Regions from separate parts of the Homo sapiens genome. Here regions 1, 3, 4, 5 and 6 are each reported to be linked to region 2. The links are microRNA targets in miRTarBase. Many come from high-throughput screens and were not tested one by one. Region 2 holds a microRNA gene; each other region holds the end of a gene's coding sequence.

Evidence for each region. Region 2 holds the annotated microRNA hsa-miR-4650-5p (UCAGGCCUCUUUCUACCUU, at 3,618-3,636, opposite strand). A microRNA usually pairs through its seed, bases 2 to 8, with sites in the 3' UTR of a target mRNA and lowers its output. Matches are read on the target gene's strand: a 7mer-m8 pairs with bases 2 to 8, a 7mer-A1 pairs with bases 2 to 7 and ends in A, and an 8mer does both.
Region 1: the mRNA of NSFL1C is a reported target of hsa-miR-4650-5p. The part of its 3' UTR that is shown has no 7-base or 8-base seed match.
Region 3: the mRNA of PPP1R14B is a reported target of hsa-miR-4650-5p. Seed matches in the 3' UTR shown: 7mer-m8 at 4,022-4,028.
Region 4: miRTarBase lists SLC25A28 as a target of hsa-miR-4650-5p. Seed matches in the 3' UTR shown: 7mer-A1 at 3,841-3,847.
Region 5: miRTarBase lists CD59 as a target of hsa-miR-4650-5p. Seed matches in the 3' UTR shown: 7mer-A1 at 3,263-3,269 and 7mer-m8 at 2,494-2,500.
Region 6: miRTarBase lists MPIG6B as a target of hsa-miR-4650-5p. Seed matches in the 3' UTR shown: 7mer-A1 at 3,683-3,689.

The regions. Positions count from the first base shown.
Region 1 is chr20:1,439,042-1,444,126 of GRCh38, forward strand. NSFL1C (NSFL1 cofactor) reads right to left here. Exons shown (of 9, transcript NM_016143.5): 9 at 3,125-4,870. The coding sequence ends at 4,708. Among named protein-coding and RNA genes, the nearest start is that of NSFL1C, 25 kb to the right of the region's middle.
Region 2 is chr7:72,696,553-72,701,552 of GRCh38, reverse strand. MIR4650-2 (microRNA 4650-2) reads right to left here and starts at 3,650; the gene lies at 3,575-3,650. The region is part of intron 10 of TYW1B (tRNA-yW synthesizing protein 1 homolog B); the gene reads left to right.
Region 3 is chr11:64,240,635-64,245,719 of GRCh38, forward strand. It overlaps PPP1R14B (protein phosphatase 1 regulatory inhibitor subunit 14B), which reads right to left. Exons shown (of 4, transcript NM_138689.3): 2 at 4,570-4,653; 3 at 4,296-4,328; 4 at 3,845-4,188. The coding sequence ends at 4,120. It overlaps FKBP2 (FKBP prolyl isomerase 2), which reads left to right and starts at 461. Exons shown (of 6, transcript NM_004470.4): 1 at 461-498; 2 at 1,750-1,924; 3 at 2,565-2,677; 4 at 2,817-2,863; 5 at 3,207-3,242; 6 at 3,334-3,498. The coding sequence starts at 1,754. The coding sequence ends at 3,395. LOC114841035 reads left to right here and starts at 461. Exons shown (of 6, transcript NM_001370414.1): 1 at 461-1,579; 2 at 1,750-1,924; 3 at 2,565-2,677; 4 at 2,817-2,863; 5 at 3,207-3,242; 6 at 3,334-3,498. The coding sequence starts at 646. The coding sequence ends at 1,443. RefSeq lists enhancers at 1-370, 1-89, 371-1,271, 2,174-3,074 and silencers at 370-1,389, 1,420-1,659.
Region 4 is chr10:99,606,757-99,611,841 of GRCh38, forward strand. It overlaps SLC25A28 (solute carrier family 25 member 28), which reads right to left. Exons shown (of 4, transcript NM_031212.4): 4 at 3,766-4,610. The coding sequence ends at 4,093. Among named protein-coding and RNA genes, the nearest start is that of SLC25A28, 11 kb to the right of the region's middle.
Region 5 is chr11:33,705,332-33,710,400 of GRCh38, forward strand. CD59 (CD59 molecule (CD59 blood group)) reads right to left here. Exons shown (of 4, transcript NM_000611.6): 4 at 1-5,012. The coding sequence ends at 4,795. It also overlaps a transcript of C11orf91 not described here. Among named protein-coding and RNA genes, the nearest start is that of C11orf91, 7.0 kb to the left of the region's middle.
Region 6 is chr6:31,724,227-31,729,311 of GRCh38, reverse strand. MPIG6B (megakaryocyte and platelet inhibitory receptor G6b) reads right to left here. Exons shown (of 6, transcript NM_138272.3): 3 at 5,080-5,085; 4 at 4,685-4,725; 5 at 4,468-4,547; 6 at 2,598-4,342. The coding sequence ends at 4,238. It overlaps DDAH2 (DDAH family member 2, ADMA-independent), which reads left to right and starts at 13. Exons shown (of 6, transcript NM_001303007.2): 1 at 13-447; 2 at 567-666; 3 at 788-861; 4 at 1,020-1,139; 5 at 1,620-1,769; 6 at 1,959-2,272. The coding sequence starts at 151. The coding sequence ends at 2,075.

The DNA of each region.
Region 1 (5,085 bases), not on the chromosome of region 2:
TGAGCTTTTCCTGCTGCAGGTGGTTCACCCAGAGCTGACTTAAAATAAGCTCATGGTACAGAGGCCAGGCCAGGAGGATGGAGTTAGATGGCCCTTGGTTCAAACTCAGTTGTCATTTATTAGTAGTGTGTCCTTGACTGCTTTCTCCTCTCTGATTCTCCGATCATTTAACCAATAGACGTTTAATGGCCAGGTTGTCTACCACGTGCAAGGCACTCAATTTCATTCTCTGTAAAGATGTGAATAATAAAAGCACCTGTTTCACAGGAGTGTTGAGAATTAATGAGATCATGCTCAAGTGTTTGACAGCGCCCGGCACATGGTAAGGGCTACACAGCAGCACCTATTGTCATTCATAAAGTTCCTCCTATGCGTCAAGGGCTTCACAGACATCTTTAATCCCCATAGTCTAAGAGGTAGGAACTACCATTATCCCTGTTTTCTGAATGAGGAAGCCAAGGCTCAGAGAAGCTTAGGTGACTTGTCTAAGGTCATGCCTGGTATAAGATGGAACCTAAGTTCAAAGCCTGCCCCAAGCCTCCACATGCCCTCTGAGTTTGTCTCTTGAGGAAGGACAACTTTTTTGCCTTTTCGTCAGAGAACCAACCTTTAATCACCCTTCACAACCCAGTTCAAGGGTGTCCGCTTCCGTTTTCCCTGTCCCTCCCTGCCCGACCCAATCGTCCCTCCTGCCACTGCCTTTGTGCCTGCCTTTTTCACAGCAGTAGAGCCTCGGGGTCAAGGGCTGTGGCTCTGCGTTCAGGTAGTTGGGGATTCAAATGCCTCTTACTCCGTGTGTGGCTTCAGGCAAGTCCCATCACCGCTCTAAGCCTCAGTAACTTCTTCCATAGTGGGCTAACCATGGTACCCTTGGGTTGTTAAGGCACAAACGGCCTGGCACAAAGTGAGTGCTCAAATGATGGCAGCTGCTATTACGATTAGTAGTAGCAAGTCCTAGTCCTGGCATTGAGGTTCTCAGTTGCTCAACACGGAGGGTAACTGGCCCTTAATAAACCTCTTGGTCCAGCTGAGACAGGGCAAGAAGGGACTGGGGACATTCCTGTCACACCCGCTTCCTACCCCAGACACATCTTCTTAGCACCTGTTGCAGGAACACCCTGTGGCTCTAGGTGCCCTTTAGGACGCCCCCTCATGGCTGAGAACCTGCTTTGGGAGGAGGGACTGCAGTTCCCAAGCAGGCACCACATGGGGGTGCTTTAAAAGCCTTCTTGCCTTCCATCCTTTTAGATAAGGTCTGGTCTCCATTTCACAGGTTCATCCAAGCACGCACTTGTTGAGGATCTACTATGCGTCAGACACCATGCCACCTGCTCCGGATACAAGAGTGAGGAACAGGCATTTCTGCCCTCATGGAGTTTATAAGCTAGTGGGGGGACCAAGGAAACAAGCACGTTAATAAATAGAGTACATATTAGATGGAGCAGAGAGAAGAAAAATGAAGCAGGTCAAAGGGATGGAGGGTGGTGGGAAGGGGCCAGGGCCTATGGGGCTCTGCAGGTCTTAGAAGTTTCCAGGGGTAATGGAAAGCTCCCAAGGACGTTAAAGGATGGGAGTGGCAGGCTGTGGTTAATGGTGCCAAAGAAGCCCTTTGCCTGGGTGGGGCAAGGGCAGAAGCTGGGGGACTGATGAGATTCTGCAGTCATAGGTGAGTGACTACGGAGGCTGGCCCAGATGATCGTAGGGGAGGGGTGACCAGGGGCACCCAGAGGATTGCTGATGGACTGGACATGGCATGAGATGAGGCCACCGAAACAGAGAGGCACAGTCACAGTGCAGGAGCTCAGACTGGGACCTGGGTCAGATGCTACAAGTCAAAAAGTGTTTTCTACTCTGCTTCCCTGTCCTGGCCTGGGAAGAGTGTGGCCTGGAAGAGGGGGACTGGGATCCCCAGCCACACACCCTCAACACAGGAGCCCAACGCCCATTTAAAGAAGGAAGGCCTTTTATTTGGGCCTGGGAATCAGGAGTTGGCAGTTCTCTCTGAAATGCTGGGAGTTAGGAGACAGGGAGCAGCAGGGAACCCTTATTTCTGTACCAGCTGCTTCCCCTGAATGAGCTCTAAGTCATCTTTAAGCTCCTGGCAGGGAAGGGCATGCTTTGTCCTATGGATGGGTATGAAAAGGGCCGCTGCCCCTCTGGAAGACACTTTGGAACGCCATTAAAGCCATGCCTAGCTCTTGACCACATGCCTGCTTCTTCCCTGGCCTTCTACTGAGGAAGCAGCCGGATCTGTGCAAGACTCTACCTACAGGGTTGCTGGGCATGATTGTTAACAAGATCAAACAACCCACATCCCACAGCAAAGACTAGTTAAAACTGCACTTTTAGAAAGGGCATCATGACAATTACTTTGCCTATTTTTCATTTTGATGAGTTTTGGGTATCTATCAAGGCATATCCAATGAACTGACATGCATCCTTGTCCTGGCCCATTTAATGCCAGGAGGTTCTCTTACCAACCAGTTTTTGGGGAGATCCAAAATGCCCCAGTTGAGAACTGAATTCAGAAGCCCCGGAACCAGTGGCTGAGTATCCTTTTTCTTCTAAACCTGTGAAAACCTATCTGGGTGGATGGGCCTTTCCATCTGGACTGCCCAAAACAGAAAACTAGGGCTGGGAACATCCTTCCCCAGCCTGGAACCAGACCAGTGTGATCCCTGGTCCAAGGTCAGAGGGACTGTCTCTCAACTGTGGTGGCTGCATCAACAATATAGGTAAGAGTTAGATCACCTGCCTCGCTTACTTCCCAGAGGTGCTGGGGGCCCTGTGCAAACTACCGTAGATGATACAGGTTTTAAGTGGGTGTTTTTACAATCTCTTCTGCAATATACTAATTAATTAAGCAGACACTGTGAGAAGGAGGTAGGGGGAGGTCAAGTGTATGTATATGGGCCTGGCAGTTAGGGATGGAGTGTATACTGCACTCCATGGTGGCTGAACGTGGGCTCTGGATGGGAAGAGGCAGTACCTTACCACTTACTAGCAGTGTGACTGGGGCTCAAGGTTTTGCACTGTAAAGTGGGACCTTTGTGAAGCACTTAAGTACTTCTGCTGGCTGCTGTAGTTTCCGTCAAAGCAACCCATTAGAAAGTACAAAACTCCATTGTCCTCATTCTGGTTTTTAATGGTCAAGGTGACAACAGTGTACAGTTTTTCCAGACCCATATGTAGGTTCCATAATCTCCACCTGCTGGAGAAAACACCGTGACAGATGCCATTGCCCCAGCAGGCCACTGCCGGTGTGGGAACTTTGGGATCAAAAGCACCAAGCCAAGTCCCTTGCTCAGGATGGGTCTTGGTTGAAACCACAAGCCCTTCTGCAGTTCTAGGTGGATGTAGTGTTGGTTCTTGGCTCATTGCAGGGGTGAAGCAGGAAAGAGAAAGAGACTGGTGAGGCCTGCTTGGAAAGAGGATTGAGGCACATTACGATTCCAAACCAGGAGATCCTGAGTCAGCACTGATTCTGTCTCTGGTTTGTTTAATACGGGAAAGGGTTCCATCCAAGAGCCCAATAGGCCTCCTCTCCCAAACCTGCATAGCAATCAAACTTATAGGGGTGGTGGAGGGTCTTTACCAGGCTAGGACTACTGCCTATGTTTCTGCAAGTCACAAGTCAGCAGGTCAAAGAACAAGTGTGAAGCAGAACCTGCTAAGCAAAGCCAAGTAGTGACACTCACTTCCAAAACATACCCAGCAGAAGCCTCCTGCAAGTACCAACAGTGACAGGTGCTTGTAGCACAGAAAACTCACCCCTTCTTCAACAGTTGATTTGATTTGCCACACATCACTAGTGAACAGCTCGGTGGCATTTTGACTGTTTATCTTATAGGGCAAGATACCCTGATTCTGAACTCACTTAGGATGGGTTGGCATGAGCTGTATCCTAGTGAAAAAAAATATCCCACCTACCTCCTAGGTCCACTCAAGACTTCTGCACGTGGAGTAAATCAAGCCATAATGGAGCCCCTGAGAATCCCCAGGAGGCGAGCAGTCTGGATGGTAATGGAGGAAAGGGCCAGGCAGGCAGGTGGAACAGAATCTCAACTGGCCAAGACCTGGCAAGATTAGATACCCCAGGGGTTGAGTAAAAGGAGCACAGGGAAATATTTATTTTCACCTTCTGAAGACACTGTGTGCATGGAGCTCTGACTTCCCACTTCAGGGAACTCTGGCTGCCGCCCAGTTTTATCTGGGCAAGTGACATATTCTCGTGGGAACAAGTGGTGGCGAAGCCTCTTTCTACACATTTCCCCTCCTTCCTCCAGTCATCTGTGGGGCTGGCGGGTGGGACACACTAGTGAATAAGCATTGTGTGCCACAAGTTTTTATGCAGAGAAGATGGAAGGAAGTTTCCTCCCACAGGCCCCAAGATAAATATAATTTTAAAGCAATTAAAGCCTGCTTCAGTGGGAGAGTTTCCGTACAACATGCTGGTGATATTCCTTCAATTTTTTTGGTTGTTTTTATTTTTTTTTTCATTAAAGTCCATTGATCATCACAAAAACCCAGGAAATGCAACTAAGGAGAAAACAAACGTCCAACCAAGATCTAAGAACCCAGAGCTATGGAGGAGACGTTGCACTGGACTGCTGGGTGTGCACAAGGGGGCAGGAGGGGCGATCCCCATGGGGCATGGCCACTGGCCATGGGAAACACAGGAGGGAGGCCAGGCAGCTGGCTGGGCGGTTATGTTAACCGCTGCACGATGACAGCATTGAGCAGGTTGGCTTCCTTCAGGGTCTGGCTCTCATCAGCCAGCTCTTTGTTCGGGAAAGTAGTCATGAGGATAAAGCTGGTGGCAGCCATGGCTGGCCGGGCATCCACGATGAAGAGTCGGATGTCGCTGATCCTGCAGGAGTTGGGGAAGCGGTGAGCAGTGCCATCCTCTGCTGTCCATACCCCTGCCCTGTGGAAAGCTAAACACCTCGCAAATCCCCTTTCCTGACTTTCTCCACAGAACAGCGAAAGCTACGCTCAGGCATGTGGGACCAAGTCCCTTCCTTGCCAAGAGTCCTTCACTGTTGTTTCCATTTTCCTTGAGATAAACACCAACAACCCTACTGT
Region 2 (5,000 bases):
GTGGCTCATGTCTATCATCCCAGCACTTCGGGAGGCTGGGACGGGAGGGTTGTTTGAGGCCAGGAGTTTGAGACTGGCCTGGGCAACATAGTGAGACCCTGTCTCTACAAAAAATTAAAACATTAGCCAAGTGTTTTGGTGCATGCCTGTAGTCCCAGCTACTGAGGATGCTGAGTCAGGAGGGTTGCTTGAGCTCAGGAGTTCAAGATTGCAGTGAGCCATGATCATGCGACTGCACTCCAGCCTGGGGGACAGAGTGAGACCTTGTCGCAAAAAATAAATAAAAAGAAAATGTCTAGTGTTTAAAGAAACTGACAAGATATACAAAGAAACAAGAATGTGTCCTATACAGTTGAAAGGAAACAGAATAGAATCCATCTACAAGGAAGCCTAGATGTTGGACTTACTAGACAAAGATTTGACATTGGCTATTTTAAATGTGTTCAAAGAACTACAGGAAAGCATTTTCTTTTCTTTTTTTTTTTTTCTGAGATGGAATCTTGCTCTGTCACCCAGGCTAGAGTGCAGTGGCACAATCTCAGCTCACTGCAACCTCCGCCTCCCCGATTCAAGCAATTCTCCTGCCTCAGCCTCCTGAGCAGCTGGGATTAGAGGCATGTGGCACTCCTGGCTAATTTTTGTATTTTTAGAAAAGACAGGATTTCATCTTGTTGGCCAGGATGGTCTTGAACTCCTGACCTCAAGTGATCTGCCCCCCTCGCCCTCCCAAAGTGGTGGGATTACAGGCATGAGCCACCACACCTGGCCAGAAAAACATTTTCAAAGAAACAAAAGTATGAAAATGATGACTCATCAAATAGACTATCACTGAAGTCTCTCAGAGACCCATGGGGCACCTTCAGGCATGCCAACATATTTATAAAGGGAATTCCAGAAGGACAGGAGAGAGAGAAATGAGAAGAAAGAATATTTGAACAAATACTGACCAAGAACTTCACAAACTAGAATTTGGGAAATTCACAAATATGTGGAAATTAAACAACACACTGTTAAATAACCAGGATATCAAAGAGAAATCACAAAGTGCATTCTTTGTAGTTGTTAGAAAATCAAAGAAAGGTCCAGGCGTGGTGGCTTACACCCGTAATCCCAGCACTTTGGGAGGCTGAGGCAGGTGGATCACCTGCAGTCAATTCAAGAACAGCCTGGCCAATGTGGCGAAACGCTGTCTTTACTAAAAATACAAAAAATTAGCTGGGCGTGGTGGTGGGTGCCTATAATCCCAGCTACTCCGGAGGCTGAGGCAGGAGAATCGGTTGAACCTGGGAGGCAGAGGTTGCAGTGGGCCAAGATTGTGCCATTGCACTCCAGCCTGGGTGACAGAGCGAGACTCTGTCTCACAAAAAAAAAAAAAAAAAAAAAAAAAAAAAAAAAAAGTGTAAAAGCTCTTTATGTATTGATATGGAATGATTTCTACAAGTTCACAATCTCTTATCCCATGTGCCCAAAAGTGTTTCAGAATTTTAGAAAGACAATACAGTTTATCCACTGTATTTTATGGAATATCTCCACCACCCTAGAGCCACACACATGTAATTAGTTCTACAATAAAGTATGCTTAGTCACAGAAATGGAAAAATTTGGCCAGGCACAGTGGCTCACGCCTGTAATCCCAGTACTTTGGGAGGCCGAGGCAGGCAGATCACCTGAGGCCAAGAGTTTAAGACCAGCCTGGCCAACATGGCGAAACCCCATCTCCACTAAAAATACAAAAATTAGGCAGGTGTGGTGGTGCGTGCCTGTAGAACCAGCTACTTGGGAGGCTGAGGTAGGAGAATTGCTTGAACCCGGGAGGTGGAGGTTGTGGTGAGCCGAGATCACGCCCCTGCACTCCAGCCTGGGTGACAGAGCAAGACTCTGTCTTTAAAAAAAAAAAAGAAAAGAAAAATTAAGAATACAAACAGCTTTGTAAGTCAGATTCTACTTTGAGGTAAGTATGTCTCCCAACTTAGAAAAGCAACCTTTCGGTTATTAGAGCTTTTTGGATTTTTAAATTGTGGTTAAGAGGTTGTTGGATTGGTGATAAGTGGGAGGCACAGGGGAGCCAGATGCAGAACGGTGCACTGTGCTGGCTTTTTAATCCGTCCATCACACTGGAGCCACGTGACTTTCATCAGCACTGATCTGACTGTGTCACTGGCTACATAAAACTTCAGTAAGCCAAACCTAACCCTGGCAGGACATGAGACCTGGCTGCAGGCATCCCCCAATTCCATTTGCCATGTTAGAGCCATGGGGGGATAGTTTGTGATTCCTTTATCCTGCTGCATCTCACAGCTGCGGGCCTTTGCATTTCTTCTTTGGACATCCCTGGAAATGATCTCATTCTCTTCCTGATGAACTCTGTGTCCTTCAGAGATCAGCTTTGACTTTGACCTTGTTACGTCTTTTGTATGATTTTGCCAAGCAAAATCAACTCACTCCTCCATTTATACCCATTACATTTTCCCCACCTTAGTCATGGCGCTGCGTGGTGGGACTCTCATCCATCTTCTGTTCCCTCCAGAATGTAAATATTAAGGGCTGAGCCTCTTGGCCTCAGTGTCCAGTTCGTAGTAATCCCTGAATAAATGTTGAATGAAGTGCATAAGCCCCTGAAGAGAATTAAGTTCAGAATTTCTTCCTGAGGACTTGTTGTTTTGGCTTCTCTTAGGACTTTGCAGTCAGAATCTGCATTTCACAGATCATCCGTATTCTCTTGGATTTTTCATTTATGGAATACTGTTTGTTACATGTAACCGCTGTGACTTGAACACTGAGCCACACTGTGGATTTTGCCATCATGGTGCAGGGTTAGGAGAAAGGCTCTGGGTTCATCTCTGGACTTGAATCTCCTTGATGCTTACTGTTTTTCTTTTCTTTCTTTCTTTCTTTTTTTTTTTTTTTGAGATGGAGTCTTGCTCTGTTGCCCAGGCTGGAGTACAGTGGCGTGATCTCGGCTCACTGCAGCCTCCGCCTCCTGGGTTTAAGTGATTTTTGTGCCTCAGCCTCCTGAGTAGCTGGGATTACAGGCATGCGCCACCATGCCTGGCTAATTTTTGTATTTTTTAGTAGAGATGGGGTTTCACCATGTTGGCCAGGCTGGTCTCGAACTCCTGACCTCAGGTGATCCTCCTGCCTCAGCCTCCCAAAGTGTTGGGATTACAGGCATGAGCCACTGTGCCCGGCCTGATGCTTATTCTTTATAGATCCTTGCACATGTTACTTAACCTTTTGAACCTCAGCTTCATCGTCTCTAAAATGGGCATAAGTAGCAACTACATGGTCATTTTATTGTGAGGATTCAGTGAACTGATCAAGAAGGGTAAAGCACACGGCAGAGTGTGCCAGCTCGGTGAGTGGTAAATAATTCTCTCCTTCTCTTTCACCCTCCTCCTCTCTTCCTCCTGAGCTATTTGGCTTGTTCTGACAGCCCCAGATTGTCTTAGAGATTTAGGTTTTAATATCATTGCTTGTTTGGGTCACTCTGCTTATTTTTTTTTATCCCAAGGAGGAGCTTCAAAGTCACTGTTTACTTGAATTTCTTACAAACATAAATCTCTCTCCTTTTTTTTCCTGCAGATATGTCAGGCCTCATTCTACCTTCTGAGCCTTGGAAGGTAGAAAGAGGCCTGATAATCTCTACAGAAAGGCAACATGGGAGAGGGATTTTTATGTTCATCAGCACATTTTTATATATGATAATTCTTCACTCAGAGATTTAAAATTAAGATGAAGGGTCCTTACAGTACTCACATCAAGAATCCTGGGGCATTTGTACAGAGGATTGGGCTTAAGGTTGTCTATCTTAAATATTGTCTTTTTTTGGGAGAGCAGAGGATATCCTTTTTAATTACTCCCAGCAGTGCTGTGAGATTCTCAGATACAGGAATTATTATGGTGATTTTGATGATGTAAGACTTTTTTGCTTTTTGGGAACATTTGTTATCCTGTATAGAATAGAGACAGATAAGTGACTCTACTGGGAGCCTCATTATCTCTTCTGGGTGAATAGAGACCAGTGTGAGGCAGAAATAAGATCCCTAAAGCTCAGAAAACATCTCCAAAAGTCTCTTTGCTAATTTTGAGCCCCTTAGAAATGAGCTCTGTAATTCCTGGGGACCTTTTCCTCTTCTCCATTCTTCCTCTGCTCCTTGACGAGAGATCTGTAGACTTCCTTGAGTGCAGCATCTCAGACATCTGGTATTGACTAGAATTCCTTATTGGACTTCCTTGGGTGTAGCATCTCAGACATCTAGTATAGGCTAGAATTCCTTAGTAGTAGTATCAGTGTCCAGGCCTTCCTATTTTGTAAATGATAGAGGTTTGTAAAAGGAGTATGGCCTTTGGAATGTACTGTTCATAATCTTAAGTAGTTATGGAAGCATAGTGAAAAGGTCAGGGCAGTTCTCATTTTGCATCAGGAAGCTTTTGACAAAGTCCTGTTAGTTATCAGATGATGATAGCCAGCAGTAACCATTAAGACAGTCCTTTTTTTTTTTTTTTTTTTTTTTTTTTTTTAAGTAGAAATCCAGTTAAGGAAGCATAGCTTGTCTTTTATTAAAGAGGCACTCAGCAAAGGGGTGATGAGACAGAATGCTGTTATTACTGATGCTTTTGTTTTACATTTTCAGTAATTAACGTGCTTTGCTCAGTAGTGACACATTACCTGAACTTCAAAGGATCCCCTTAGTACATCGGTATTGCAGAGGCATTAAAGCAATGAGAGCCTGCCAGGATCTTAATCACCTCTGTCCTACATTTGGTCAGAGCCTCTCCACTTTTAACAGAAGTGAACAGAAGTCTAGACACTTGTGATTTTTCTATATATCACTAAGCCACATCATTGCAAGCATCTGTTTGGCCTATATTCCCTTAAAAATTCTGTCTGCTGAAATCAACAATATCTCCTAAAAAGTAGCTTTAATATCTGCCTGTGTGGCTGGATAAAAAGAAAAACAGGATTCTTGCTCTTCAAGATCTTACACTCAAAGATTGAT
Region 3 (5,085 bases), not on the chromosome of region 2:
TGGGTGTCATCAAGCCCGTGTTACACGCCTGTATTGGATGACAAATTCTACCAAGCACACAGCCGACCGGGAGTTCAAACGTGAGTGTCACTGTGAAGCCCAGGCTCCACAGCGACTGAGGGCCGTGGGCCATGATGAGGCCCGGGAAAACAGGAGTGCTGTGGGAGAGGCTGGGGGCGACTTGAAATGGCGCCTCAAGACCCCCTCCGGGAACCCACGCCCGCCTGACCTTACTATCACCTCGGCCGGAAGTGTCTCCGGCCTTTTCGGAAGTCACTTTCACCTAACCTTACAGACTACCGCTCCGCCGGAAGTGACGCAGGGCAGCGGCGTCGCGGGGGCGGGGCTCGGGAAAGACCCGTGCCAGCGGGCGTGTGGCCGCGGGTTTCGCACGGTCCAATAAGGGAGGGCGGCGTGGCCCGGCCTGGTAGCGACGAGGACGCGCCTGCGCAGAGGCGGCAGCACCACCGGGGTTGACTCCGGGGGCGCGGCGAGGAGGTGAGCGGGGGCCACAGCCCGGGCTGGGGGGAGCCGGGGTGCAAGAGGGCAGGCTGGATCAGGCCGGGCAGAAGCGGACCGGGCTCCGAGTGTCAACGAGAGCTAGGTGACGAGGAAATTGGGGGTGGGGGCCGGAGCTGTCCGGAGATGCCGCAGGGGGAGGGTTCTCACGCCGCACGGGGCGGAGTCCTGGGACTCGGGGCGGGACGTGGAACCGGGACGGGTGGGACCTCCGAGCTGGTGCCAGTGGAAGGCGGAGCCCGGCGGCGGGGGGCGGAGCTAGGAGGGTCGGGGGACGGAGCCTGGCTCTTGAAGGAGGAGCTGGAGGAGGTGAAAGGCGGAGCCTCGGGGTCGGAAGCAGAGGGGGACGGAGCGGAGGCGCTGGGGGCGGGGCTTCAGCCGGTGAGTGGCGTGGCTACGGCTCCGGAAAAGGGGTCTAGTTCTGTCGAAGGCGGGGCTGCAGGCCCGGGGGCGGTACCGCGTCCTCCGAAGGGCGGTGCCAAGGAGCCAAGTGAGGAGCCTGGCCCGAGTAATGGCCCCGGGCGTCCTCGCGGGGGTGGTCTCCGTGGTGGCCGGGCTTGGGGACGCCGTAGGCCGAGAACTCCACCGGGAGAGGTGGTGTGGGTGGAGCGGGCTCGGCGGCCAGCAGACACAGGGCCAGTCTGGGTGCCCCGGAGACCCCCAAGGGCTCAGAGTTGGGGCGGCGCCCCGGGCGGAAGCACAGGGCCAGGCTGGGGGGTATCTCCCGAGGACCCGGGCTCCTCGGAGCCACCCAGTGGGGATGTGTGGGTGCCTCGGGGCCGGCCCCCTGCAGCGGCCGCAGAGGTGTTGGTGTGCTGGACCGGGGGCAGCTGGGTGTGGCGTGAGTGGGGCCGCCCAGTCGGGGCAACTGCAGTGCAGCCAGATAGGGTCTGGACTTTGCGTAAAGGGACAGGCGGGAACTGAAGAGCGGAGGTGGGGACTGGGAGGGAGGGAAGGTATGGGGGTGAGCAAAGGGGCGGGTCCCTGGCTGCTGTGGCCTCCCCTGACCCCCTCCCCCCGCTGCTGGGGTCCTCGGCCAAGCCCCCTTCTCACTGGACTGGTAAGTGTGGCCCCGGAGCCCGGGGGAGAGGGCGGTGACCCGGGACAAAGGGGATCCCCCGGGGCAAGGAAGATACAGTGGCGGTGGAACCCTCCTGTTACCTACCCGTGTTCCATACTCTCCCTGCCCTCCCCCACGTTCAGTCGGTCGGTCGGGGTCTGTGCCCACAGAGACATGAGGCTGAGCTGGTTCCGGGTCCTGACAGTACTGTCCATCTGCCTGAGCGCCGTGGCCACGGCCACGGGGGCCGAGGGCAAAAGGAAGCTGCAGATCGGGGTCAAGAAGCGGGTGGACCACTGTCCCATCAAATCGCGCAAAGGGGATGTCCTGCACATGCACTACACGGTGAGTGGGTTGGGCGGGCCTTTTGGGAGTGGGTGGGGCTTCCGAGGACCAGAGAGTGCTTGGGAGTCTGGTTCTCCATAAGCCAGGTAGGTGACCTTGGGCAAGTCCCCTCTCGCCTCTAAGCCAGTTTCCATGGTTCTGCCTTGCCCTTGCCTACTGCCCAGGTGGGCACCAGCAGGCAGTGACAGTGTACTGTGAGCTGCCCAAGGCTCTGTCCTCTTAAAGAACTATGACCAGCTGGGCGCAGTGGCTCACCCCTGTAATCCCAGCACTTTGGGAGGCCGAGGCGGGTGGATCACCTGAGGTCAGGAATTTGAGACCAGTTTGGCCTCATGATGAAACTTTCTCTGCTAAAAATACAAAATTAGCCAGGCGTGGTGGCGGGCGCCTATAATCCCAGCTACTTGGGAGGCTGAGGTGGAAGAATTGCTTGAACCCGGGAGGCAGAGGCTGCAGGGAGGCGAGATCACGCCGCTGCACTCCAGCCATGGCAACAGAGACTCCATCTCAAAAAACAAAAAGGACTGACCACCAGGGCTGTGGGTGGGCGTGGGGGGGCAGCTTGATGGGGAAAGCAGCTGAGGGAGGGGGTGTCAGGGGTGGTCCCCTCTTCCTCACTGGCCTTCTCATGGTTCCACAGGGGAAGCTGGAAGATGGGACAGAGTTTGACAGCAGCCTGCCCCAGAACCAGCCCTTTGTCTTCTCCCTTGGCACAGGCCAGGTCATCAAGGGCTGGGACCAGGGGCTGCTGGGGTGAGTCATGGGGGAATGGGCTTGGGAGTGGGGGCGTGCATGGCCACCGCCCAGGAGGTAAGCTGTGGGAGGCAAGCCCCAGGGATACAAGACAAGGGCCCTGGGTGCTGCCATGGGCTGAGCATGTGTCTTCCTGCAGGATGTGTGAGGGGGAAAAGCGCAAGCTGGTGATCCCATCCGAGCTAGGTAAGAGGCCCCTCCTGAGGGTGCAGAGCGAGTTTGGGGTGTGTGACTGGGAAGGGTGAAAGCTGCTTCAGCTTTTCATTGGTCTTCACCGTATCCATTCATTACAATACATGCCTCCTCCAAGTTTGGCTGTGTCTAGCAGTGAGTACAGGGCAAGATCATTGAAGCACTCAGCTGTAGTGGCCCCACTCTGCCCTTGCCAGGCCTTTGGCACCCCCTTCCCATCTCCATTACCCTTCTCCATTTCTGGCCTTCTTGCTGAGAGGGGCGGAACACTCTCCCTTTGCCCACACTGGAAGGGAGCTTGGCCATCACTGACTGTTTCTTTGTGCATCTTCAACAGGGTATGGAGAGCGGGGAGCTCCCCCAAAGATTCCAGGTAGTAAACCTTTTGATACCTCCCATCACCTGCAGCCAGCCCACCTCCCTGTGGCCCTGGTTGGCATTTTGACTCCCCTTCTCCCCTACAGGTGGTGCAACCCTGGTGTTCGAGGTGGAGCTGCTCAAAATAGAGCGACGAACTGAGCTGTAACCAGACTGGGGAGGGGCAGGGGGAGAGGCCCCCATCAGGGACCAGACTGTTCCAAAAAAAAAACAAAAAACAAAAACAAACAAAAAAACACTTAAAAGCCCAAGGAGTAAGCCTGTGTGTGTTTGTGGGCCCTGAGAGACTCAGAGACCTCAGCTCCAGCATACCCCACCACCTTCTCCTTTCCCGACTGTGGAGCCTTGGGGGTCTAGGCTCAATGACATGGTGGCCCTTGCCCAGAGAGAAAGGAGTGTTCCTGCCTGCCAACAGCAATACTGCTCCCCCCACCCCCACAGCTCCCCAGCCACTTTCAACTCCTGGTCTGGGAGCCAGCACTGGGCTATCGTCATGGCTACGTGGCCCTTAGGAAGGCCTGTGGTCACCTGGGGAGAAGCTGAGCTGGCAGAAGTCAAAGAGCAGTGTGCCCCCCTAAAAGAGACCAGCCGAGCCTGTTAGCTGCACCAAAGGCGTATCCTAGCTTTATTAAAGGGCCCGCGCCGCAGAGTCAATATAAAAACACAAAAAGTCCCATCAGTTTAATAACAATAAAAAACCCCAAAAGTGGAAAACTGAGGGGGCAGGGGAAGAGACCCCTGGGCCAGGGGCACGAGGAGCCCTGCTCATGGCACCAGGCCTGGCCGCAGGGTCCCCCGGTATTGCTGTTGCTACGAGGTTGGGGGGCAGCGATTGTCCTGTGGGAGCCACCGTTCTCCTGGGTCGGGGACCGTCACTTCTTCTGGGGTGTGCTCAGCTTCTGCATGCCCCGGATCTTGTCCAGCAGGCCAGAAATGAAGGCCTGGATGGGGTGGGAGGGTAAACATTAAGGAGACCAGACCCCAAGATGACAGGAGCCGGGCTCCCCTCACCCTGCCACCCCCGCCAGCCCCCCAGGAAATCTCTTACCTCTGTGGGTTTGTAACAGTCAACCAGCAGCTCCTAGCAGAGGATGGGGGAGGAAGGATAAGTGAGTCCTCAGGAGTGGGGGCCTGGAGCTCGCCTATACCCACTTCCAAGAGACTGGGGCCACCCTGAGGCACAGGAGATGCCACAACAACCTCACAGCTAGGCATTGGCCCCATTCTGTTGAGGCAGGAGCTGGGGCTTGAGGGCCTGGCTCCACAGCCTCACTTTCCCGGGGCAGTGCCTCAGGCAACCCATCGCCCCCCAGCCCCCTCACCTTGACCCTGGCAGCCCGGGCATCGTCACTCTCCATGTCCAGGAGCTCATCCACGTCAATCTCCAGTTCTGGGATCTCCTCTTCCTGGGGTGGGGGTGGGGGAGGAGGGAGAGACATAAGCCTGAGTTGGAGAGAGGGTGTGAGAGGGGCTCTGGGTTGAGGCCCCTGCCTACCTCGGAGGAACCCAGCCCTCTGCCCAGCAGACAGAACAGCAGCTGCTCTGGGGAGGAAAACAGATCAGGCCCGTGCCAAGGCAAACTGCCCAAAGCGGGGTGGGGGGGGGAGCTTCCTGTCCCTGCCAGTGGGCACGGGGGGTGACAGACAAGGCCAGACAGCCAGGGTTGGGGACCTTGGGCTGGGAACCCAGCAGATGTGTCTCCCCAACATCCGGGCCCCCCATCTCACCAGAGCACCGGTGGGTGCAGCTGTCCCAGCTTATCATACCCCCCTCCCCTCCCCCAAACACCTGTCACAGCTCCCCGGGAGTGAGGAGGAAGTGAAGGCTGAGGGGTCACT
Region 4 (5,085 bases), not on the chromosome of region 2:
CTTAGGGTGGCAGAGGTGGTGGTGGCGGTGGTGGCAATAAAGGGAATACTGTGTGTGACTCCAACAGAACTTGTTCTCCACTTACCAGTCTAAGATTCCAGGAAATAACAAAATACTGCACATCCAGTAGGTTGATGTATATATCATTAAGTATTTTTTCTATGTATAATTTTTTTGTAATTTTCAAAAATGAGATCTCACTATAACCAATTTCTTTCACATAACAGAATACAGTGTCTATCTTTCCGCATCATTAAATTTTCTTCCATCATCTCAGTATAAATGGCATGCCACATTTCATTGTATGAATGTTCAATAATATCAATAGCTTATTCAATAAGTCCCCTGTGGCACTTTTTTTTTTTTTTTTTTGAGACAGAGTCTTGATCTGTCACCCAGGCTGGAGTGCAGTGGCACCATCTTGGCTCACTACAACCTTTGCCTCCTAGGTTCAAGTGATTCTTGTGCCTCAGCCTCCCGAGTAGCTGGGACTACAGGTGCATGCCACCACCCTGGCTAATTTTTGTATTTTTAGTAGAAATGGGGTTTCACTATATTGGCCAGGCTGGTCTCGAACTCCTGGGCTCAAGTGATCTGCCTGCCTTGGCCTCTCAAAGTGCTGGGATTACAGGCTCGAGCCACCATGCCCGGCCCCCTGTGGCACCTTTATAATATCAGAAACATTGCTATGGGTAGGTAGAATCTGAATGATCAAAAGGAGGATAGATAGGTTGGTGGAGAGAGAAAGTTCAGAGTGGTGAGACAGTCTGGCACCATCTCCTGACAGGCATTGAAGATATCCGGCCTGGAGACCAGGACGCAGGTTACCGGATAGTGGGGCTGAGGCTGGCCCTGAGAACATCTAGATCTAGGAGGCTTCTTAGAGGTCATCTTGCTTTGCAACCCTCCAGGAGTTCGACTTCACTGTATAGCATCCCTGGCAGGGCTGACCAGCCCCAGCTCCTGTATTTTAGAGCTCGCTGCTGTGCAATGCTATCCGTGTCATTGCTGCAAAGCTCTGTCTGTTAGAAGGTCAAGTTCTCTGGGTAATGGGATTCGAAGTATTTTCTTTTTATCTGTGCTTTCTAAATTTTATGAAATTAGCATGATTCAACATTTATTGGCTTTTACGAAAGTATTTTTTAATTCTATTCATCAAAGCCACCTTCTTCTCTGTTTACTCTGCCTACACTTATCTTTCCTGTCTCTAAATCTCATTGTTAATTTCTGTATAATCCAGTACATGTCTATATAGTGTCTTGTGTTATTAAAAGTTTGTTTCACTCATGTTGGTCTCAGCTCTCCAATGAAGAACATTTTCCTCTGGCCAAATTGTGACTTATTTTCTCATTTTCCCTGACACATAGCACTGTGCAGGAATTGGCCACTTGATGATGGCTTGGTACTGGATTCTCCAGGTGTCACATGAACTACCTGGCTCTCCACAGAGGCTCTGGACCTGGGGATGCCCCCAAACACCCACAGTTCTCCTGGGTCTGCTGAGCCCCTTGGAAATGACCCAGGTATCCAGTCACTGGCATTGCTAATGTTCAACCTGTCACATTATTCTGCCTCTATCTCCCCTTTGACCTCTAGTGACTGGGCCAAGAGACCTGCAGAACCTAGTGTCCTGTCCAGATTCCAAACTAAATGTCCTCCAGTAGCTACAGCACAACTGGAGGCTGGAAGATCACTTTTGTATTCTTTTCTCATTATTTGTGAACAGCATTAGAGCTGAGGTGGTCTCTAGCCGCTACCAATCTTTAAGAAATTACCCCGCAATCCATTCTTGAAAAATAAGCCTTATTGCCATTGTGCCTACTGTGTGTCAGATACCATGCCAGACAGCTCTGTAAAGCCGACCGCAGAGACTAGGTCCTGACAGCCATCCCTTTGCTCTCTTGCTCAGTCCATATGGGAGGCAGCTACTCAATTACATTTTTACTAGCAAACCCTCTGAAATGACCTTTACAATGATATCATCACACTCTTTTTACTCAGCAACCACCGCTTAGCACTATTAATCTCTCCTCTCCACGCTAAATCAGAGGGGCAGCATAGCCTACTTAAATAAAGCTTAGGAGACCCTGCTGGTTTCTCGACAGTTTTTTTTCAAGTGCATTCAGACATGATTCTCCATAGATATTGAAGGGCTGTCAGATGGGAGGAGGACGAGATCTACTCTGTGACCGAATCCTATTGCTTCTACAACCCTAACATGGCTCCCGGCTCCATGCCACAGTCCTGCTTCAGACCACCATGCACTTGCCTGGATTACCACAGCAGCCTCCTAACCAGTTGGCCTGCCTGTCCAGTCTTGCTCCTCTAATCCTTTCTCCAGAGAGCCTAAGTGATCTGTTTAAATTGTAAATCTGATCACACCACACCTCTGCTTAAAACTCCGTAATGCTTTTGCATGGCCTTCAGGATAAATCTAAACTCCATAGCATCGCTTTGAAGACCCAGTGTCTGCTTGGCTCTCAGGCTGCATGTCTTGCCCAGATTGTTTCAGTCCTACCAAACCACTTGCACACCAAATCCCAAATACTTTTTAATTCTCTTACCTCCAGGTCTTTGCCTAGAACATAACCCCTCCCCTCTTCACCAAGTTAGCTCATTTGCCTTCCAGGTGTCACCTCAGATGTTACTTCCTCCAAATGTCTACCCTGGTCACCCAAGGCTACGCTGGGTATCCTTCTGTCTTCTGAGTATCCTAGGTTTATTCTATCTTCTCTCCTGTCATTTTGTTTTGTAATTGCCTGTTTCCATGTATCTTCCTCTCCAGACAGTAAGCTCCTTGAGGGCTGGGATTGTTTTTATCTATCATTGTATTTCCAACACCAGTGCTTGCCACAGAGACACTCAATAGTTAATGAATGAATGACAGATGACCTAACAAGGATAGGTGGAAGACTCAGAGGGGTACATTTCTATGTACTGAAGAACTTGCTAATAACTGGTGATATATAAAAAAAAAAAAAAAAAAAAAAAAAAAAAAAAGGAACACACTGACCCACCAAGCACAGGGAAAGCCCCATCTCTGAAAAGTCTCCAAGCAGAGCCTAACTGGTCATCAGGCAGGGAGCTTCCTCAGTAGATGGCAGTAGATGTGAGATGCCCTCCACTCATTTCCCATCTGTAGGAAGCCACGCTTAGATTCATTCGTGAGGTCAAAACACTTGGGCTGGGGTCCCACTTCTGCACTGACTGTGAGACTTTGGACTAGTCACAGCCTCTGAGCTTTCTTGCTTGTGAAATACAAATGACACCTGCACTGCCTACTTCAGAGATTTTGTGAGGTTCAAATGAGATCACACATGCTCAAGTACTCTGTGAAAGCCTTAAAATAAAATGAAATGTATTATTTACCATGTAATCTTCAGGACTTGCAGCTTCACTGAATAATTTGAGTTTCACAACTAAAATGGAAAACCAAGTGCCACACTGTAAAGCACTGCTGCAGGCAGAGCTGCGAATTAGAGCAGAGATCTGCCCCTTCTGTGCTGCGCTACCGCCCTAGGGAAGACAGTGGGGATCTGGAGCATCTGATTGGTTGGGATCTGTCAAGGGCTTGTTGTTCTAGCCATCAGGGAGATTGCTTGGGGCCTACCACTAATGTCTTAAATTGTCATGAAAATCAGCAGAAAACTACAGACATACTCAATAAACCTTTCCTTTGGGTCCCTTGATTTATGCTTAAAGGAAAGTCAAGAACAGTTAACAGCATTTCACTTCCCCTTTAGCAAGACAAACCCAATGAAACCATTTAATTTAAAGGCTTTTTATTAGGAACCAGGGGAATGAGCTGCTTATCCCTCTATAACAGTCTAGAGCAGGTCATCAGGCCCAGGATGGAGAGAGGTTATCAAAGGTGCTGTGGTGTGCTTTGCTGCACGTGCTTAGGGCCTGGAAGGAAAGGTGGTGGCAACAGAGGTTGGCAGGAACTGGTGTTAGTCAAAACACCAAAATCCTGGGGGAGAGCCCCTCTACCTTCCTTCTAACTCCACTTGAGGTGGGAGCATTCCAGGAGACAGAGAATGTGACCAGGATGCAGCAGTGTCATCTGAACCCCTGGCTTCGTTCAGTGCTACTTCACTTGCCAGCCCTCCACTCTTCTTGCCTTTTAGTGATTAGGTATTTGAAGAACTCATACACAGACCATGCGATGGCTGTGGAGGGGATCTGGTAAATTACTCTGGCCTGCACCCCTCGGAAATAGGCGGTCACCCCACCTACTTGATATACCGTCCTGAAGGCACTAGCCATGCCTGTGATATGTCCTGTAATGTGTGAGTTCAAAGCCAAGGACTCCTGGGTGTTGAGCAGTGTTTTGCAAACGTCCAGTGGGGTTGTGGCTGCGGCAGCTACAGCTCCTGCGCAAGCTCCAGAGAGGACGTGGGAGCTTGGGTTGTACCGTCTCTGGGGGTTAAAGTGCTCCTGCAGGAATTCATAGGTCATGAAGTGAATGGCTTGGAAAGGAACGTTCATGGTCAGCTGGGTGGTGTAGCTGCGGTAAAAGGCCCCGGCCCCTTCATTTTGCCACACTGCCCGTACACAGTCTGTCACCCGGTGGTATGGTGAGTTGTACATCTGCATCCTCTGCTTGACCACTAGTAGTGCCATCAACGAGGAAGGAAATGGTGACAGCAGCCAACCGGTGATGGAGAGTATCCAGATTCAGAGCCCCAAGTCAGCAGATCAGCCAATGGAATAGAGAGAGAAAAAAGTATGAGTGAGCTGCTGGCTAACCTGAGAAGTCAGCTTCCCTTTTTTGAGGGGAAGGAGTAAGCAGAGGGTTGGTAACGAGTCAAAAAACAATAAACCCACTTCCATCAGGACTTCTGTAAAGCCAGCCAGTTCGCACACAGGACATATCTACAGTTTGGGAGCTTCAGAGAGTCTTCTTGAACTAAGTACCTATCTCTGATCTTACCCTCTAACAATTCCCAACAAGAAATGACTCCATGATAGTGATCATCACGAACACAGGCCCCTAACAATCCCAATCCTCGCATACAAAGAGCACCTAACTTTTAAAATGTGAGATGGTGATCCTCCTAGAGGGGAGGAGACAGAAGTTCTACC
Region 5 (5,069 bases), not on the chromosome of region 2:
TGGAAAGCTCTTAAGAACTAGGTTTAGAAGGTGCAGAGACCAGGGCAACTTCAGGGATCCAGGTAGCAGGAAGGAATCGGTAGCCTCTTTGGTATGGCCACTATGGTGGTAGACACTGTCTACCTTGTTTGCTGAGTCTTCTGGCTTTCTTCCACTCTTCCTGCTCTTGGACATCAGACTCCAGGTTCTTCAGCCTTTGGAATCTAGGACTTGCACCAGTGGGTTGGTTGCCAGGGGCTCTTGGGCCTTTGGCCACAGACTGAAGGCTGGCTGCACTGTCAGCTTCCCCAGTTTTGAGGTTTTTGAACTCAGGCTGAGCCACTACTGGCTTCTCTCTAACCCAGCTTGCAGACGGCCTATTGTGCGACTTCGCCTTCTAACTGTGGGAGCCAGTTCTCCCTAATAACCTCCCTTTCATATATACATATATCCTACTAATTCTGTCCCTCTGGAGAACCCTAATACATGAATTATAACTCTAAGTTTCAGTTCTGGCCATAGCATTATGTCACACCAACACCAGCATCAATATTTTAGGTTGCCTAATTAATGTATCTGTAAACCTATAGCCAGCTTGGGTGGGGCTATTGAGAGTCAGCACCAGCACTGATCATATATAGGATCAGCCTACTGGGGTTGGCCACGTTGTATGTAGCTGCGAATAGCAAGGAGGGGAACAGCAACATCCCTAGGGAAACCGATCACAGAAAGGCAGCTCACTACCCCACAGTAAAAAGAACCTTGAGTTTCCCAGTTCAGTCCCCTGCTGGGTGCATGCTACCCCCCTCCTCTCCCAGAGGCTCTGGACCTACACAGCTGCTGAAAAAGAGAAAATGTCCTTACCTACAATGAACCATCACAGGCACCCACCTAGAAATTAAGGTACTGTGGTCATTTATCTTATCCCAGAATAACAGGAGTGTGTATAAACAGGAAGCTTTAGTTTAGATAAATAAGATTATCCATTACAAAAATTTTATATTGAATAACCTGTAAGTAATTTGAAAAAGAGACTTCTGGCTAGTTTTCACTTATGTCCAAGTCAGTGGGGGTAAATGCATTGTGATTCACTGTAGGTTTTAGACTCTTACAGCCTTAACAACCTTGTAAATCCATAACTAGCATCTTCCTATCTGGCAGACCCTTTACAAATGCATTATCTCAAGCCTCACAACAATTCTTTGAGGTAGACATAGAAAGTGAAAGTTCAGAAAGGGTTTAAAAAAAAAAAAAAAAAAAAACTTGTCCAGAGACATAGCCAATTAGTGGAAGAGGGTTTGAACCCAGGTTCCTAACTACAAAATCCACGGGTTTAACTGCTGCTCTCCTGAAATGAAATATCTACAAGAAGTAGCAGGCATTGAGAAACAGATGGGAAGATAGTGTTTTGATATGATTTTCTGTTTACAGGAAGGCCTAACTACGTCCTGTTCACCTCATGCTATTGGGTAACTTTCCAGTAAAAAACAATTGCACTTTGTTTTCTTTTCCAAAAAGAGGCAGAAACTGATTTCTTCAAAGTAAAAAGGCACCAGGGACCCATTCTAGACTTTCCAAAGCTAGGCACATATTAAAGAGAGTATACAAAATAGGCAGAGAAGTAGACTTGCTGACCTGAGGAGCTGAGTGGGAAGCATGGACTTGCCAACTTACCTAAGTGACCTTGAGCGATCCAGCTAACTTTGCATAGTTTCCTCTTGTGTAAAGTGAGGTGCAAGTACAGATGAAAATGTATATAAAACATAGAGCTTAGAATCCTGTACCAGAAAGCTGCCCTCATCACAATGAATGTCAGTCAGTACTAGCTCCAGCCAGCTGCTCAGCCCATCAAGAATCCCTCAGGGGGATCTGTTAGCATTAGTTCAGATCTGTTGGCAGCAACAGAAACTAATGCGAGCTAGTAGACTTTGAACACTGCTAAAGAACTTACCAAGAGAACTCAGATGTATAAAAGTGGTTAATTCTGTCAAGAGGCCCAAAGTCTTGGGCAGGCTCTTATTTTTTCAGGACACACATAAGACATGGGGGCTAACTGCAAGGACACAAGAAAAATATACCCATACCTTGAAGCCCCCAGTACATTCAAGACCAAGTTTGGCAAATAGATTAGCATCTTTCAGGAAATACCATGAGCTCCACTTATCTACTCATCAGGTGTTCCTTGCACCCCTAGCTCATCCCCCCAAGGGGACAATCCAATGGGCTTATCACCACCCAATACTGAACACTATGACAGTTCCTGTAAATCCAGATGAGTGGAGGGCACAGGGTATTGGCTCTCGAGCAGAGAGCCAGTAGGCATGACTGGTGTTCGATTCCTAACTCCCCTGCTCCCTGGTTTCATTTGGAACCAACTGAGACAGACACATGAATCCCTCTTCGTTGATCAGGGTCAGTTGGAGGATGTAGCTGTCGGCCTGGTAGCCAGGTGGGCTTGCTAATCCTGCACCTCTACCTTAAGCTTACCCAGCGTGAGGCCAGGTTAGAAAGTCACAGGCCTTGGCAGCAGGCAGAGAGCCTTTACTGTCATAGTGAAGAGCTTGCCAAGGACAGGACTGATTCTTCCTCCAGCCTCACCTATCGGGGCAGTCATTGTTCCGCTGTCAGGAGGAGAGGGGCCAGAAGGGTCACATTGAAGAAATGTGACATGAGGGTGGAGGTTCCTGTCCAGCACTCTTACACTCTCTATTTAACCTAGGCTGACTCACTGCAGTTGGCACTAATTTTCTATTGCCACAGCCCTCTCCAGCCAGGAGGGCCTGGAGTACCTGGGGTGCTGTTTGCCTAGTACTATAAATGTCTTTACATTACAGTATTGCCTTTGGGTCCAGGCACTCAACCTTGTCTATGGCATGAGTCACAGCAACTTTTTGCAGAAAGCAACCCCAAAGTTTAAGGCCATTTATATGACCCTTGTTGATTTGGACAGCTTAACAGCCCCATCTCCCCATTTAGTGGCACTCAGATTTTGCTTTAGAGGACTACCTTCTTCCCAGTGTAGTCTGGCCAAAAAGTGGGTACATGACACAAGATAGCAGTAAGCCAATCTCATCCTAGAATCTCAATCCTGAGAGAGGCTTCCAAAACTGTCGACTCCTGGCTTTCTGGAGTGTGGCTGAATTCCCCACCCCCCCGCCCCCAAAAAAGTTCCCAGAAATTCATTTTCTGCTTAAATTCATCAAAATTGTTTCTCATTCCTTAGAACTCACATGAAATGAGCTTCTTTGCTCAGCCGGTGGCTGTGGGCATGGTCAGTACTTCCTCAGGCCAAAAAAAAAAAAAAAAACCTATTGATGTAAGGAAAGACACTGAGCTAACAGAGAACACAGAGCACCAAGGTAATGCTAAGTTTTGATAAGCAAGTTTCTATTTTCCTATGTTCAGGGAACGGCATCAACAGAAGAAAGCTGGCACTGCTCAGGATGTCTTCTTTCAGTTGCTACCATTAAGCATACTGCATATCCTTTTCGGCCATAACCACATTCACCCACTTGTTATATTTCATTTTCAGAAAAGCATCATTCATTGCACTCGGTTTGTCCAACAGAGTATAATCAAGGGTTTTTTTTCAACATTAATCAAGAAATTCCTCCATCTGCAAAAGTCAGCCTATGCCATTAAATACAGCCAAGATCATAAAATACAAATGTCATTAGGTCTACTGAATCTTGAGATTCATTCACTAGAATACACAGGGAAAAGGAAAAAGTTTGCCCTTGTGAAAGGTGTGTATCATTTTTTAGAAGAGCTTCTGAAAGCCTCAAACATCTGTGAGTGTGCTAAGAGCCGTTACAAAGGTATTTTATACAATCTATGCTGAGTCAGCTAGGAGTTAGCAGGAGGCTGGATGCAGATGGTAAAACATACCCCTGCAGATCTGTTGTTATTAAGGATGACCTTTGGAAGTCTCAAACTGTAACCACAAAGGGTGTCCCCACTGCATTCATACTATATACACACATACCTGAACTGCCTTTCTACCAGTAACATTTAAAATAAGCACACTTAATACTGCCAGTCACATGTAGTAGAGTGTTCACTCTGTAACTGTGTGTGGCAAAGCCAAGATATCCTACCATTCCAATAAAAAAAAGGCAAGGAAATAGCTTTAACACACCATTGATGTATGCTATTACACTTTTCCAGTGGAAGATAACAAAGCCCATATAAAATTTAAAGACAGAGGAAAAACTCGATTTTCAGCCACTTGTACCTCTCTAAGTTTTCATGCCCTGCTATCTGGAACACTTCCCCACTTCCCTGCCAGAAGTCCTCTAGCTCTGCATTAAGGATCTTGTTGTCCCTGACTGACACCCACATATGGAACATTTGGCATGCCTCCATGGCAACACGGGATCCCTGAAGTTTATGAAAGCGTTCCATGTGAGAGAGGATGCTCATATACTCCTGCCCCACCCTCCAAAGATGTACTAATGATGCTAACTGACTACATCCAAGGAGCCAGAGGAAAAATAATCTGAGGGCTGCAGAGAACCCACTCAAGCTGTCACTGCAAAGCTGGTCTTCCCAAGAGCAAAGGAGGAAGCATGCAATCTAGTTCAAGTCACACCTACTTCACTCTTAGACTTCTTCCTTCAAGTGGGGCTTCCCTGCAAACAGGACTGGTCTTCAAAGTCTCCCAGAGCCCCTCTATCTTAGCCAGGTTGCTCAAGCTAATTTTATTCTTTCCCAACAGGATCCATTTGGAAAATATCAAGCCTTTAGAATGTGGCAGCAAGAGAAAGCGGACTACGCAGGAACGGGGAGTTTGGGAGAAGCTCTCCTGGTGTTGACTTAGGGATGAAGGCTCCAGGCTGCTGCCAGAAATGGAGTCACCAGCAGAAGAACTGTTTTCTCTGATAAGGATGTCCCACCATTTTCAAGCTGTTCGTTAAAGTTACACAGGTCCTTCTTGCAGCAGTAGTACGTTAGCTCATTTTCCCTCAAGCGGGTTGTGACGTCGTTGAAATTGCAATGCTCAAACTTCCAACACTTGTTATACACTTGTAACCCTGTGGGGAGACACACACAAGGGTAAGAAAGTAAGTGGGAAGAGTTCTGTATCTGCT
Region 6 (5,085 bases), not on the chromosome of region 2:
GAAGACCTGGGCGCTCTTAACCACCCCCAACGCCCTTGTCTGCATGTCTTTTTCTCTGTCTCCTCCTTTTCTGTTTCTTCTCCCAGACAGGTGAAGAAACAAGAAAACTAAGAAATCCGAGCGGTTGGAGGGGGAGTCTGTGTGGATGGGATGGGGACGCCGGGGGAGGGGCTGGGCCGCTGCTCCCATGCCCTGATCCGGGGAGTCCCAGAGAGCCTGGCGTCGGGGGAAGGTGCGGGGGCTGGCCTTCCCGCTCTGGATCTGGCCAAAGCTCAAAGGGAGCACGGGGTGCTGGGAGGTAAACTGAGGCAACGACTGGGGCTACAGCTGCTAGAACTGCCACCTGAGGAGTCATTGCCGCTGGGACCGCTGCTTGGCGACACGGCCGTGATCCAAGGGGACACGGCCCTAATCACGCGGCCCTGGAGCCCCGCTCGTAGGCCAGAGGTGAGCGCCGTGGCGCGGGTGTGGTATGGGGAAAGGCAGAAGGAACTGGATGTCGGGGCTTTGGGGAAGAATTGAGGATGGGGGTGTCACAGCTCCGTGCCCTCTTCTCCTATCCTAAGGTCGATGGAGTCCGCAAAGCCCTGCAAGACCTGGGGCTCCGAATTGTGGAAATAGGAGACGAGAACGCGACGCTGGATGGCACTGACGTTCTCTTCACCGGTGAGGCTGGGGGGAGGCATAGGTCTTGGCACAGGGAAGTAGAGTTTGGGAGACTCGGCCGTCTGGAGCCTTGTTTCTAACTCACTCCCGCCCTCAAACCTCCGCGGCCTCCCGGACTCAGGCCGGGAGTTTTTCGTAGGCCTCTCCAAATGGACCAATCACCGAGGAGCTGAGATCGTGGCGGACACGTTCCGGGTGCGGAGCGGGACCAGCCTAGGGAGGGAGGGGGTGCAGGTGGGGGTCGGAAGGGCCTGGGCGCCCGCTGAGGAAATGAGAGGCAGAGAGCAGCCTATGTTTGAAGATACCCCATCACCCCTCCCGCGCCCCTGAATACCTCCCTTCGCTCTCCCTAGGACTTCGCCGTCTCCACTGTGCCAGTCTCGGGTCCCTCCCACCTGCGCGGTCTCTGCGGCATGGGGGGACCTCGCACTGTTGTGGCAGGCAGCAGCGACGCTGCCCAAAAGGCTGTCCGGGTGAGGAGGGGGCGGGGCCAACGAAAGTGGGCGCAGTTCTGGGCCCGGGAGGCCGGGAGCTGGGAGGCTTAGGAAATTAGCCCTAACCCCTGCCCTCAATGGGCTGTCCATCTTACATGAAAGAACACAGGAGAAAATAAGAAGTTACAACAGCAGGACTGGGAACAGGGGTGATTAATTTGCTCTTCCGGAGTTTCAGGAAACCCCAAAGGTGGCACCTAAACTGTGACTCTAAGGATGGGTAGGACAGATAGGAGGGGCTGGGGAAGGTAGGGGGTTGAAAATAACTGCATGTGATTCCAAGGTGGAAATTAGCAAAGGTAACTAAAGTACTTAGTGTCTGACATATCGTAAGCTCTATGTGCTTGCTGTCATTATTTTCCACAAATGTCAGTCCGTCCCCAGCCCTTAGTGGTGGTTGAGCAGGCAGACACAGCTGTGGAGAGGTTCTGAGACTCGAACACTTCCTCTTTCCTCTAGGCAATGGCAGTGCTGACAGATCACCCATATGCCTCCCTGACCCTCCCAGATGACGCAGCTGCTGACTGTCTCTTTCTTCGTCCTGGGTTGCCTGGTGTGCCCCCTTTCCTCCTGCACCGTGGAGGTGGGGATCTGCCCAACAGCCAGGAGGTGAGAGAGGGCAGGAACTCCAACACCAAGCACCATCAGAGAAAAGAGTTTCAGGCTTTCCTAGTGGGAGGAAGGAAGGGTACCTTCTCTAGAAGCCTGGGTGGGGCCACTCTGAGCTGGCTGGAAGAGTGGCCTGGCTCAGCCTGAGGTCTCACTCCCCTCTCCCCACTCCATGTCTTCCCTGTGCAGGCACTGCAGAAGCTCTCTGATGTCACCCTGGTACCTGTGTCCTGCTCAGAACTGGAGAAGGCTGGCGCCGGGCTCAGCTCCCTCTGCTTGGTGCTCAGCACACGCCCCCACAGCTGAGGGCCTGGCCTTGGGGTACTGCTGGCCAGGGGTAGGATAGTATAGGAAGTAGAAGGGGAAGGAGGGTTAGATAGAGAATGCTGAATAGGCAGTAGTTGGGAGAGAGCCTCAATATTGGGGGAGGGGAGAGTGTAGGGAAAAGGATCCACTGGGTGAATCCTCCCTCTCAGAACCAATAAAATAGAATTGACCTTTTAGACTGGGCTGTGACTGGTGTCTTACTGGGGCAAAGGGATAGGGCAGGGCTGAAACCTGAGTTTGGGGTCAGTGCAGGGAAGAAGGCCTCTTATTCAAAAATCTTGTTAGGTACTTATCAACTCATTGCCCAACCATGTCATAGGTACTTGAGCACAAGATGAACAAGACAGAATTTCTATCATGGGAAGTGTGTCCAGGGCAGAGAAAAGAGTGTATGGGTGGATTGCTCACTGAATTTATCTAAATGTTAGATGATTCAGAGACTGGTAGATTACCAGTCCACCCCTATTTGATAAAGAAAAAGAAATGACACTTCCAGGGACATTCATTTTCATTCATTCATTTAATGAGGCTTAGCAATGATATCAAAAGGGTCAGTCTCCTGACGTTGGGGAGCTCACAGTACATGCAAATTTCTTACAAATTGAAATACAGGTTGTCATGGAACAATTTACAGAAGGCTGTTTCTATGAGGGAAATAAAGGGGGTGCGCCCTAGGGCATCAAAGTATATGCAAGGGGTGGCCAAGGAGGGTCACCTTCCCAGAAAAGGCCATACTTGAACTAAGGATAAATAAGAATTAGCCAGGCAGATAGTGTGAAGGAGGGAAAGGGGTAATACAGGAAGAAGGAATTGCACTGGGCAAAGACATTTTGGGGCTAGGGAGAATTCTCTAAGGCTGGCATTTTCTAAGATGTGCATGTGGAATGACACAGGTAAGCCTGGAGAGTGGACAAAGTGCTGTAGTACCTTGTATCCAAAGCCAAGGCACGTGGGCACAGAGCTGAAGCTAAGGAGAGTACTTCAGTTCTGTAATAAGGGCTGTCAGGAGCAGTTATCTCTTGAGTAGGATCTCTCTGACTTCAGGGAGGAAAGCAAGGGTAGGAGGATGAGGTGGGGCTATGGGTAATCCAGGAAGGAAGTGAGCAGAGTACATTCACGTGGCAGCGCTGGGCATGGAATACAGTGTGGGTTTGACAGTGATGTTAAGATAGAAAGACTGGACTTCATGGCTCATTGTGTGGGAGTAAGAGAGAAAGGAGGTCTGCGTGACTCCCAGTTTCTGGGTTGGGCAACTGGGTTGTTAAAGAGAATACAGAGGAGAATTAAGTGAGCAGCTTCAGAGATGACAATGAGTTGGGTTTGACATTCAGAGTGCGAAATGCCTGAGGTCAGTCAGGCAGAATGTCTAAGTGGAAGTTTGTTAATCCCAAATCTGAGATCTGAGCCAGAGAGAGTTCTGAGTGTCATTTGCAGAGGAGGGGGCTGAGGACTGACTGTTGATGAGAGTGTCCCAGAAGAAGAGAAAGGGACAAACCTAGAATGGTGGGAAATACTGTAGGGATATGGAGCAAGGAAGAGGAGTCCAAAAAGAAAACACCAGCAACAAAGAAAAACAGCTTAAAGAATCAGGCCGGGCGCGGTGGCTCACACCTGTAATCCTAGCACTTTGGGAGGCCGGGGCGGGTGGATCACGAGGTTAGCAGATCAAGACCATCCTGGCTAACACAGTGAAACCCCGTCTCTACTAAAAATACAAAAAATTAGCTGGGCGTGGTGGCGGGCGCCTGTAGTCCCAGCTACTCAGGAGCCTGAGGCAGGAGAATGGTGTGAACCCGGCAGGCGGAGCTTGCAGTGAGGGAGATGGTGTCACTGCACTCCAGCCTGGGCAACAGAGCGAGACTCCGTCTCAAAAAAAAAAAAAAAAGGAGCTAGGGCTTGATTGGGTATAGAGAGGACACTGGTGGTGAGGGAGACATGGAGGTTATAGGAGAGATGGGAGTAAGTTTAGAAGTAAGACCAGTGGCAGAGACAGCCTGGAACCCAGGTCTCCCAACTCCCAGTCTAGCACTTATTTCTATACCATGGTGCCTTCCTCTTCCAGGTGAGGAACCAAGGAGGGGAGAGGGATTATGGGGAGCTGGGATCCCCTAGCTTGGGAGGTTTGGAGTAAGGGCTTCCCTTCAAACTACAACTGCATAGATGGTGGAGGCATCAGCAGGGTCCGCTGTGGACAGCCGGCGGGGCCTGCTGAGGGCTAGATGGTCCAGATCCGCATAGAGCAGGCTCTGGAGGAGGAAGGGGAGGAAGACAAGATGGTCTCCACAGTCTTCCTTGGGGTTCAGGCCTTTTTTTTTTTGGTCCATTTTCCTCAGAGATTCTGGCTATCCCCTTCCCATCCCCATGCCCTTACCGGTTCCTGGTCCAGGTCCCCTGGAATCTTGGGCTCTTCCTCCTTTACTGGCCTCTGGGGCTCGGTTTTCACAAGTGGAGCTATGTGGGGGGGACAGAGCTGAAGGATGGAGAGAAGGTGACCAACGTGTCTGCTCCCAGCAAGGGCTCAGACTCAGGAATTGAGGGGTGGGGAGTGGGCATGTAGGAGAAAGAAAATGGGGTGGAATTAGTCTCACCAAATCTAGGGAGTGGTCGAATCGGTTGCGGGGGCAGGCGCCTGTAAGGGACATATGAGTCTTTGAGAACCACCAGTCTTGTCTCACTGGTTCTCCTGGGACTCGCCACGCCAAGGACAGCCCAGCAACTTGAAGGCTCAGACCGGAAACAACTTAGACTCTACCCCACCGACAGTCCAGCCCAGGCTCTAACTCTGCTGCACTTCCAGCTCATCTGCTCTGGTGGGGCTCTACTCACCAGTCAGCGGCCTCGCTCCCACCTTTGACCTCTCCCATTCTTCGCCAAGCCAGGACCAGAGCTCTAGGTCTAGCTCTTTCTTTTGCGAAGGTTCTGGTCCTGCCCCTTCCACCTCTGGTCACTCCCCATTTAACGAGGCCGGGTCCCTCCTGCTCACCTGTGC